2 linked regions of the Homo sapiens genome follow. The protein of the gene in region 2 purifies or fractionates together with the protein of the main gene of each other region. This does not show direct contact. Each region holds a gene or a part of one and is shown on either strand. Other genes may lie near its edges. The genes, in order: AMD1 and PTH2.

Region 1 (4,716 bases), on a different chromosome or scaffold from region 2:
AATGAAAATTGAGGAAATATTTTCTAACGGAAGCATATTCTGAGAAAGATCAGAATATACATTTTCATAAGATTTTTCAGCTTATTACATATTTGACTGTGGAACTAAAATGTTGCCAAATAAAGAAAATGACAAAGCCAAGTGTGATGGCAGAACCCTGCATTCCCAGCTACTTGGGAAGCTGCAGCAAGACTGCTTGAGCCTAGGAGTTCAAGGAAGCAGTATGCTATGATCGCACCTGTTAACAGCCACGGCACTCCAGCCTAGACAACAGAACAAGATCCTAAATTAAAAAAAATAAAGAAAATGATCAAGGTTATAAATTTTTTTCTACTTAATAGAAATAACCATGAATGAAATAAGGAAACTTATTTGAGTTTGATCATCCTCAACCAATGTTTTAAGAGTCTAGTCTATAATAAAGGTTGGGACCTAACACTTTTAAACTTCTGTCTAACTCCAAACTCATAAATACACATTGTTGTATTGATTTTAAACTTCAGACATGTAGTATTTGGTCAAGTAGGCTACTTAAAAAACAGGGCAACAGAAAAGTTTCTGAATGTCACTAGACAATTAAACTTTTATTGAAGCGTAAATTGTGGTACAGAAATACATTTCAACTGATTTAAGTCCAACACCAGTGAAAGGAGAAATTATGGCACCAAAACTTTCCCTCTTCTATCATACGATGATTTAGATTATGATTCAAACTACATTTCTCTTTTCTAGGCTTTGTCCCATAAAAATTTGTGCAGTTTTTCAACATTAGAATTCTTAATTCTATTGGAAACAAAACAAAACAAAACAAAACAAAAACAAAACCAAACCAGACCTCAAGTCAACAAATCTATTGGGATATTGTTTACGAACAAAGTCCACCTTAAGCATTGGTCCTCAAAACAGAGCTCCTCAAAATATTAGGTGCTGTGCTCATTACAGAATCAAACTGATCACACTGATTGAAAACTTCCTCAATGAAATTTTCAATCAACAACATGCTTCAAATAAAAGTCAAACAGTGTTCCAACCACTTGATTTCAAACCAAGTAGATTTTAGGTTTAGAAACACTAAAAAAAGGTGTTTCATTTATAAATACGGAAGGAACAAAAACATCACTGCATCAATCCAGAAATTATCAAAATATTTAGAGGACAAGAAATATAAAATTTAGTCAACTTTGCTGTTTTCTCAGTTCCTTAAAATCCCAGAGAATCTGCAAATATAGCTAAAAGGTACCAACTCTTGAAAGCCTATATTACTAGTCATTTCCCATTGAGTATTTTGGAATTTTATTATTCTATTTATTCATATTCTACTTATTTATAATGTATTCTGCTTTATGATGTTTATCTGAATAATCTGGACAAATTCTCATTCTGGGCAGTCATTCATTTCATCCTATGAATGCCATGGTAAGGGAAACACCGTAGTTAAGAGGAACAGATGAAGTCGGAACACTCACATGCATCACAGTCACAGAACTTTAAGTCACGAGATGGAAAAGACATTGATTCTGCTTTGGATCAAAGTTTATAGAACACTACTTAATGGAAACTAGTGGAAATGGCTGCTAAAGGAAAAGTTAAGGTGAATGATCCAAGCTGACTTGATTTACTGAATCCAGAACAAAATTATGCTAAATCTCTCTGGTAATTAACTAAATAAAAATGATTTTATACTACTACTAAGTTAGTAAAGGGGTGCTACTCATTAGACGCTAATCTCATTTACTGAGGAACACAGAATTGTATGTTTTCCACAGTTCAGCCAGTACACCCTAATCTCAATCTACAACTCTGGGTCTTCCCTGCTAACCAACTATTTTCCAAAAGAGCACATTACAATAAAAGAGAGGCTAAATTCCCATGCCCTTTAAAGAATATTAAGCCCAGGGACCATCTCCCCCATTCCCCATCTGGGGTATAGAATTAGTATATAAACCCACAGTGTTAACAGTGTATTGCTTTATTTGGGGTCTTGGGGGAGACACCAGGGAGAGGGAAGAAATCAAAGGACTATAAATGCAGGGTCCAATAATGTTAAAATAGCAAATATGCAAAATGAGTAACTGGAATCATTTTCTTAAGGACTCAACTCATGGAAGAAAAACTTTAATTGCTGTTTCCAAAAACATCAGTATGAAGTAGAAATTGGTTTCAATAACATTAGTAAAGAATATGTTCTAGAAAGTGGAGGTAACTGGATGTAAAATTCTGGCAGCAATTTAATAGAACAGTCCTAGAGGGTTAGGCTGAGGCCAACACCTAATGAGGACGAAAGCCTTGTCTGTGGGGAATTTTGGATGATACTTGGAGAAATATTACACTGTGCATAAACCAAATTGAGTTGCTTTCACAAGTGTTGTAAAGTTTCATATAGTAAAAGGTTTTTTCTACATGCACTTCAATTTCACAGCAAGAGTGGCAGAGAATACCTAAACACAGAAGAGAGCATTCATGCAAGATATCTAACTCCTTGATATAATAATGCATACAATTCAAAATGATTACACTATCATTACATCTAGGGCTTTCTGCAACTACACAGTGGTGGTTATGGAAAGCACTGCCCCCAGCATCGACATCTAGAAAGCATCCACCACCTTCTACATGTGTTCTCTTTTTGCGTTTTTTCTTCATTTTTCTTAATCAACTCTGCTGTTGTTGCTGCTTCTTAGCAAAACTGGTAAAAACAAAATTGTAATCATTGAACATAGCACTCTGGCAATCAAGACGCTTAAAACCTTCAATCTTCTGGGGCGAAGCAAGCACTGTGCGACATTTAGAACTCTGGGGGAAAAAATTAAATAACCGTTAGTGTTTGCAATCCAGAGAAGTATTTTCAACCAAAACAGTTAAGTGACAGACTTTTATCTTAATGAAACTAAGACATCTGAGTTATTTTAGCTGCCTTCTTATGTGCTGGAGGGGCCAGGGCATCTTATGGTTCCTCCCACCAGAGGCCTGTCAATAGCAAGACAGGAGGAACCCATCAGTTTGGCTAGACAGAAAACAAGGACTGACACAGGTCTAATGAAACAAAGCTTCTCAGCTACCAGTAACCTCAAACAATATTACTTCTGGATATCTGAGTGGCTGGTATATGTGCTATCTCAGAATACATCTTAGGCCTCACTGTCTCATTTCCTTTAAGATTTTAAAAATCAAATAACCTGATTAATAATAAAATATAAAATTACCTGATTAACAAACAAGGTGGTCACAAATTTTCCTGGCTTGAAGACTTCTACAACTTTCCTGATCAGGTCATCATAGGAGGTCTGACTTAAGTTTGTTTCAAAGCTAACATAAGAAAATTCTGGTTCTGGAGTGATGTGAATAGTCCAATAAGTTCCCTGAGAGAAAAAGTTCACAGTGTTAAGAATGGAAAGACTATTCACATTTAAATAATTATTGAAGCAATATATAACTACTCACATCCGATTTCATTCCATTCATCGAATACCCACAAGGATTGAACATTGTGGCATCAATGACAGAACCTGGTATCAGGTCACGAATTCCACTCTCCTGGGGGGGGAAAAAGACCGAGTTTAACAAGGGTTTGACAAATAAACTTCAATTGAGTCCAAAATTTAGTCCCAGGGTGGGAGAAGGGAGAGGACCAGGAAAAATAACTAATGGGTACTAGGCTTAACACCTGGGTGACGAAATACTGTGTACGACAAACCCCCATGACACAAGTTTACCTATGTAACAAACTAGCACTTGTTACCCTGAACTTAAAAGTTACAGAATGAAAAATAAAATTTAGTCCCCACGCAGAAGAGTCCAGCAACAATTATTACTAAAAATGCTTACACGAGTGACATCCTTTGCAGTAACACCATCTTTCATGTAGAACTGGTCCATAACTGCTGGGTCAAGCTCACTCATCAGAATTTCCAAGGTTTGATCTGGCTGACTGATTACCCGACTCTCTGGGAAATCCAGAGTATATAAGTACCTAAATAAAAATTAAAAATAGTTCCTAAAAATGACAATTGGCAGTTTAAATCTTACATAGGACAACAAAAATCCACAAAATTGCATTAAACATACCAACAGTCAGAATTCATACGTCCCATACAATATGCTGCTCCATCTGTTGAGGGAAGAGAACGCAAAATAAATATAACACATCCATTTAATAGGATGGTTTGTTACTACCCTTCCACAATAAGCAGAATGATACTATTTGCCACTTATTAGAAATGTCATCCATCAGTGGACTGGGCATAGTAGCTCATGTCTATAATCCCACCCCTTTTGGCAGGGAGGCAGAGGTGGGCTTGAGGTCAAGAGTTCGAGCCTGGCCAACATGATGAAACCCCATCGCTACTAAAAATACAAAAAGTAGCTGGGCGTGTTGGCACATGCCTATAATCCCAGCTACTTGGGAGGCTGAGGCAGGAGAACTGCTTGAACCCGGGAGGCGGAGGTTGCAGTGAGCCAAGATCACGCCACTCCACTCCAGCCTGGGTGACAAAGCGAGACGCCATCTCAAGAAAAAAGAAATGTCATCAGTGAAAGGAATGGAAACAGTAGGTAAATTCCCAGATAAGCAGGATCGACTGACTTGGCGGGTATTTGCAGTAAATACCCAACACTCTGATTAGCCTGGTTTGGTTTCATATTAGTAGATGTGCTAAGTTCAATTTTCATGCTTATGAGCGACTTTGTGCAAAGTTACTAAATTATCTTAGGTTTTCA
Region 2 (6,561 bases):
AAAAGGAAGATATGAAGGAGTCAGGCAGAGGAAAAAGGAAAAAAGAAAGTGATGGAGAAGGGAAGGAAGAGTTTCAGAGGCAGAAGGAGAATAGAGAGAGGAGGCAGAGATTCCCAGAAGACCAGAAAGCCAAAAGGGTGAAAGGGGAGATAACCACAAGGACCCAGGGAGACGGGGACACATACCCAGAGAGGAAAGAGACCCAGAGAAAGGGACAGAGACGGAGGAGGACAGAGACCTTGGAGATTACAGAGAACCAGAGAGAAGGGGACAGAGATGGGGGTAGGGAGGGACAGGGGCCCAGAATGAAAGGAGGGGGCGGGGGGGTGGGGGCGATAGGGAAGCAGAGATCCAGAAATAGGAAAGAAGCCAGCTTCCTGGACAAAGACAGGCAGAGAGAAACGGAATTGAGGAAAGAAAATAGAGTGGGGACTGAGGAGAGAGATGCCAGAGTGGCCGACACAGAGTCCTGTCTCTTTTCTACCCCCCATTTCAAGCCCCGCGCCCCCAACCCAACGCACACGCAGGTCGCGCAGGAACTAGGCGCAGTCCGGAGCGCAGGGCATGGTCTTTATTAAGATGGGGACGGGCAGCGCGCTCAGGGCGCATCCAACACCAGCAGCTTGTGCATGTACGAGTTCAGCCAGTGGCGGCGCTCGAGGGCGGCCAGCAACCGCGCGCGCTCCCGGAAGGCCGCGTCGTCCGCCAGCGCCAGGCTCCTCCGCGGCCTGGGGGTGGCGGGATCCGCCCAGGCCCGTCCTGGGGGGCGGAGGCTGTGGAGAGACGCGGTGACCGCGCGTCCAGACTCGCTCTTGCCGCCGCCTGTCCTCCCCGCGGTCTAACTCGAAGCCCCGTTACTGCCCAGTCCGTGGAGTGGCTCGGTCCGGCTCCCCCTGTCTCTCTCGTTCTCTGTGTGGGTCTCTGTCTCTCTGCTCACCAGGTTCGAAACTCCCCAGGTACTGAGACCGAGTCTGATGCACTTGTCCGCCCACAGCGCTCAGCGCATGGCCAGGCGCACACCAAGAACCCAATAAACGTTGCTCAAAGAATGAATCCGTTTCTGCAACGACTCCTTTCGAGCCTCTCCACGCCTTTCTCGGGATCTATCTTTCTGTGTCTCTTTCCCTTGCTGATTTTCTGTCCATTTCCCGCACCACCACTACCACCAAACCCTCCTCCCGCCTTCCCCCACCCCTAGTCTCTGTCTTCTCGCTGGGTCTCGGTCGCCCTCTCTTTGGGCTTCTGTTCCGCTTTCTGGATCTTCCGTCCCCTTTCTCTTTGGTTCTCTTCCCACTTCTCCAAGTTCCCACCCCTCCCTGGGAGTTCTGGGACTGGCACCTACCTGAGGACCCCGACCGGGGGCAGGGCGACTCCCGAGGCAGTGCGGACGCCCCAGGGCACCACCAGCAGCAGCAGCAGCAGCAGCAGCAGCCGAACCCGAGGGCTCCTGGACACCTGGCGGGTCTCCATCACCTGTGGAGAACCAGAAAGGGGCTCAGTAGGGCTGCATCCCGGCCCAGAACCCCGGGCCCCACCATGCATCCACCCCCAGCTTCCCGCACAGTCCCCTACCGTGCAGTGGGCTGGGGCAGCGATGGTGGCAGCCCCCTTATATCGCCTCCGCAGCCCCCGCACCGGGCAGTGACGCAGGCCGGGGGGCCGGGGACGCGGGGTCACCCCCTCCCCAGGCTCATTAGGAGCCGCCAGCGGTAATGAGGAGCCGGGGGTGGGGGACCTGCCGCTGCCTTGGCCGCCACCAACTAATTGGGACCAGAAGCTGGACCTGAGACGAGGGAGGGGGAGAGACAGACAGACAGAGAGGTGGACACAGGGGGTGTGTCAGAGGGCTAAAAATAGAGACTGGCGGAAGGACCGTCAGAGGAACAGAGACACAAAGAGAAGGACAAAGACAGAGTGGCCGAGGAAGAAATAGAGAGAAAGAATGGGAACGACAGAAAAAGAAAGGAAAAGGAAGAAAACAAGAAAAGAGAGCGAAGGAGATGGAAACGAACAGTCAGATGGAGATGGAGGAGGGAAAGAAAAGGCTCTCAGAAAGACAGACGGAAATGGAAGGACGTCCTGGTCTGGAAGGAGCTGCCCAGAGATAAATACAGCAGCGAGAGGCCCAGAAAGATCGAGGGTGAGGTAGGGAGGGGGGAAAGGCAAGAAATGGCAAAGGGTACGTGTGGCAGGGGTGTGAGGACAGGAAAAGTGACAGACCACATCAGAAAAACCTCAGAGAGTGAGAAGAGGGGAAAACAGACAGGGCTCCTGAGCTGCCCTAAGGATGTGTCTAAGCCCTTATCTGGGAGGAGTTTGGGGGTGCTGTGAAGATTAAAGCCCAGTCCTCCTCACACTGACTCTTTTTGTGTGTGTGTGTTTGTCTGTTTGAGATGGAGTCTTGCTCTTGTTGCCCAGGCTGGAGTGCAATGGCACTATCTCGGCTCACTGCAACCTCCACCTCCCAGGTTCAAGCCATTGTCCTGCCTCAGCCTCCCGAGTAGCTGGGATTACAGGTGCCCACCATCACGCCCAGCTAATTTTTGTATTTTTAGTAGAGATAGGGTTTCGCCAAACTGTTGGCCAGGCTGGTCTTGAACTCCTGACCTTGTGATCTGCCCTCCTTGGCCTCCCAGAGTGTTGGGATTACAGGCGTGAGCCAGCACACCCAGTCCACACTGACTCTTAAGAGGGGCCTCAGCCGGGTGCTGTGGCTCATGCCTGTAATCCCAGCACTTTGGAAGGCCGTGGTGGGTGGATCACTTGAGGTCAGGAGTTCGAGACCAGACTGGCCAACATGGCGAAACTCCTTCTCTACAAAAATACATAAATTAGGTGTGGTGTAATCCCAGCTACTTGGGAGGCTGAGGCAGGAAAATCGCTTGAACCTGGGAGAGGGAGGTTGCAGTGAGCTGAGATCGCACCACTGCACTCCAGCCTGGGCAACAGAGTGAGACTCTGTCTCAAAAAAAAAAAAAAATTTAAAAAGAGGGGCCTTTATACACAGTGAGGAGAAGATGGGCAAAACTTGGAAGTCCTACAGAGCAGTAGAAACTTGGGATGTGGGAACTTGGGCTCCTAGTTTCCTAGGAAGGTGGTGGCAGAAGCTTGGACTCCTGAGTCTAAGAGTGGATGGGACAGGGACCCAGATTCCTATGTTCTGGGGAAGGAGGAGGCTGGGGACTTGGATTCCTGAATCTGAGGAAGGAAGGAGCTAGAGGACTGGAGTTCTGAGTCTGGGGGGAGGGAGCTGGGGGATACAACTTAGGGGACTTGAAATAGGAAGGTACCAGGGAACTAGACCCCTGGGTTTTCAGGTAGGAGAGGGTAGAGGGCCAGGACCACTGGTTTCAAAAAAATAATTTGGGCCACATCTCCACTAGATCAATCCAGTTTCTAACTCCCTTCCCCACCCCAGAGAAAATGTCCTTTACTTCTGTCCCTTTAAGAGTCTAAGTCTGTCGCTAGGCTCCCAGGATCCCCTGGGAGGGGGTGAGGTGCGTCACCTGTGTGCCCCTGAGACCCTACCTCCCACCGCCCTGCCCAGATCTGTTCTGCAACATTCACCGTTCTCTGCATCCAGCTCTGCTTATCTGCTGTTACCTTGGACACCAGAGCAGGTAAGAGACCCCAGGACCTCAAGTAAGCCTGTCCCATCGATGTGTCGGCCGCCTCCACCTCCACCTGAACACAGACCTATGCTTCTCTGCCCAGACTGGCCCCGGAGATGCCGAAATCCTAGCTCCATCTTCAATAACAGACTTGAGAGTCCTGCCCCAAAGCTCTCTTCTTCAAGTCCCTACCCCTCTACTCTGCAGAGCCCAGACCCCAGACCCTATTTCTGGAGGACTCAGAGCTCCCAATTCCTTTCTAACTCAGGAACCAAGAGCTCAAGGCCTCTTATCTCCTTTCACCCCTGCAATCCAGCCCCCAAACCTTGCTCCCTCAAAATTCTAGGCACCTGAACTTCCAGCCTTCTCCTCTCTAAAGAACCAGGAGCCAGGAACCTCAGCCCCCTCACCCTGCAAGACGCAGGAGTCTGAACCCCCAGCAACCTTCTTAACCCAGAGCCCAAATGTCTCCCTCCTCCCTCAAATCCATGAGTCCAGCCCTCAGCCGTTAGGAGCCTCCTGTAGTGTAAACAACTGTTGAGTCAAGGTGTCCCGGGGGACCTCGGAGAGGAAGGAGATCCCACGTCCCCTCGAAGCCCTGACACTCCCTAAAGTCGAAGTCGAGGAGATCTGAGGCCTGGAGAAGTGTCGTTCTTTCCCAATTTTTCTAGGACCCCTCGCTGAAACAGATAAGGAAATTAACTACGACTCCCAAGTAGCCCCGCGCCTCAGTCTCTCTTGGCTACCTGGGCCATCGCCCCACAAGCCTCCAAGGGACTTGCGATTGGGTTCTCTTCCCATCCCTGGCGCCAAGCTGGGCCCCGGACAGACGTGGTCCACCTGTGTTCCAGTGGGCGTGGCCTCCGGGAGTGGGCGGGGCTCCTGGGAGCCTTCGGCCTTAACCCCTTCCTTCCCGCTCTCCCCCGCAGCTATAGGTATCTGCCAGAGCTATGAAATCATTCAGCCGGATCCTCTTCCTCGTCTTCCTCCTCGCCGGCCTGAGGTCCAAGGCCGCTCCCTCAGCCCCTCTGCCTTTGGGCTGTGGCTTTCCGGACATGGCCCACCCCTCTGAGACTTCCCCTCTGAAGGGTGCTTCTGAAAATTCCAAACGAGATCGCCTTAACCCAGAATTTCCTGGGACTCCTTACCCTGAGCCTTCCAAGCTACCTCATACGGTTTCCCTGGAAACCTTCCCACTTGACTTCACTGAGCCCCTCAACCCTGACCTCCGAGAAACCCCGCACCCAGAGTCTCCTGAGACCCCCAAAGCTGACTCACTCACAACCTCAATATCAGAATCCCTGGACATGCCCAAAACTAACCTCTCCAAAATGGCACACCCAGAGTCTTCTGAGACCCCCACACCTGGCCCAACTGAAATGCCACACCCAGGATCCCCTGAGACCCCCAAACCTAACTTCTCCAAAACTTCACGCCCAGAATTTCCTGAGACCCCAAACACTGACCTTATGCAAACTACACCCCAAGAATCCCCAGAGATTCTGCAGCTTAATGCCACTGAAGTCTCACAGGCAGAACTCCCCGAGACCTCAAACACTAACCCTACCAAGACCCCTGACCCCAAATCCCCAGAAAAGCATGACCTCAACTCCACTGAGACCCCAAACTCTGAATTTCTCCAAGCTCTCCATCCTGACCCTTCTAAAACCCCCCACCCAGAATCCCATGTGACCCACAATCCCAGCCCCACCGAAATTTCCCAAACAGAATTCCCCACAACCTACTACCAAAATGCAACAGATGTACCCAGGACCTCCGACCCTCAAATCTCCACTAGTCTCTACCCAGAAACACCTGTGCCCTTCAAGGATGACGCCACTGCTCTAAATGAGCTGTCCCTGAATCCCAAACCAGGAACACCTGCAGCCATCCAGCCCGACTCCCCAAAATTGCCCACTTCAGATTCTCCAGGAATGGTTGAGCTGAAGGCCCCCCAGAACTCTGGCCCTAAGGAGTCCAACGTCCCTCCTCCCTCAGCCCGGATTGCAGGTCCCCCTGCTCTTCCAGGGCGCCCCAGTCAGTTGGCCCCTGCCACTCTGCGGGCACCCCAGAGGCACAGCCGAGGTGAGGGAGTCAACACCATCATCGTGGTGGAGCGAGTGAAGGAGACCGGTGAGGGGCAGGAGCCGGACTCCTGAGTCTGAGGGAGGGGCTGGGGGCCTGGACTCCTGGGTCCGAGGGAGGAGGGGCTGGGGGCCTGGACTCCTGGGTGCGAGGGAGGAGGGGCTGGGGGCCTGGACTCCTGGGTCCGAGGGAGGAGGGGCTGGGGGCCTGGACTCCTGGGTGCGAGGGAGGACCGGCTGGGGTCTGGACTCCTGGGTCTGAGGGAGAAGGGTTTGGGAACAGGAATTCCTGGATCTGAGGGAGGAGGGGCTAGGAGCTTGGACCCCTGGGTCTGAGAGAGGAGGGGGTTAGGAGCTTAGATTGCTGGTATCCCCCTTCAGGCGTGACTCTGGTGGGGCGACCACGTGGCGCAGCAGGCGGGGCCCTCTGCCTGTTCTTCGCGGGGACCGCGCTGCTGATCGGCATCTTTGTGCTGCTGTGGTGTCTTTACCGCCGGGCAGCTAGACAGCGGCCCTTCGCACATCACCGGCTTCCGGACGACGGAGATGAACCGGGTGAGCGCCCTGCCCCTTGAATGCCTGCACTTTTCCATAACCTGGTCTCTCCCGGCACTACAGGGCGCCAGCCAAAAAAGCACAGGTCCCCCACCCAAGGTCAATGAAAGCCCTGGCTCTTCCATGGCAACGTCCAGCCCCCTAAATGTCTGCAATTTCACCCAAGAGTCCAGTGCCGCTCCCAATGCGGTTGGAAACGGCTTCAGGCCCAGAGCCGGCCGTCCCCGCCAGCCCCGCCCCTGCCCCTCCAGGTACGCGGCCCGGAGCCCTGTACTTCCCGCCCTCCACTGCAGGCCCCGCCGCTGCTGATC

What was found.
Region 1: the proteins of PTH2 (region 2) and AMD1 purify together in Homo sapiens (affinity purification with mass spectrometry; 2 studies listed by BioGRID and IntAct, with this or other methods). This does not show direct contact.

What each region holds. Positions count from the first base shown.
Region 1 is NC_000006.12:110,891,553-110,896,268, reverse strand, and holds the end of AMD1 (S-adenosylmethionine decarboxylase proenzyme), read right to left. Parts: intron 4,109-4,716; coding exon 4,066-4,108; intron 3,971-4,065; coding exon 3,826-3,970; intron 3,535-3,825; coding exon 3,442-3,534; intron 3,360-3,441; coding exon 3,204-3,359; intron 2,794-3,203; coding exon 2,653-2,793; 3' UTR 556-2,652; downstream 1-555.
Region 2 is NC_000019.10:49,421,870-49,428,430, forward strand, and holds PTH2 (tuberoinfundibular peptide of 39 residues preproprotein), read right to left. Parts: upstream 1,573-6,561; 5' UTR 1,471-1,572; coding exon 1,343-1,470; intron 774-1,342; coding exon 599-773; 3' UTR 550-598; downstream 1-549. Other genes in the region: GFY (Golgi-associated olfactory signaling regulator precursor), read left to right, coding at 4,562-5,744, 6,077-6,250. UniProt on the Homo sapiens protein: Plays a role as a potent and selective agonist of PTH2R resulting in adenyl cyclase activation and intracellular calcium levels elevation. Induces protein kinase C beta activation, recruitment of beta-arrestin and PTH2R internalization.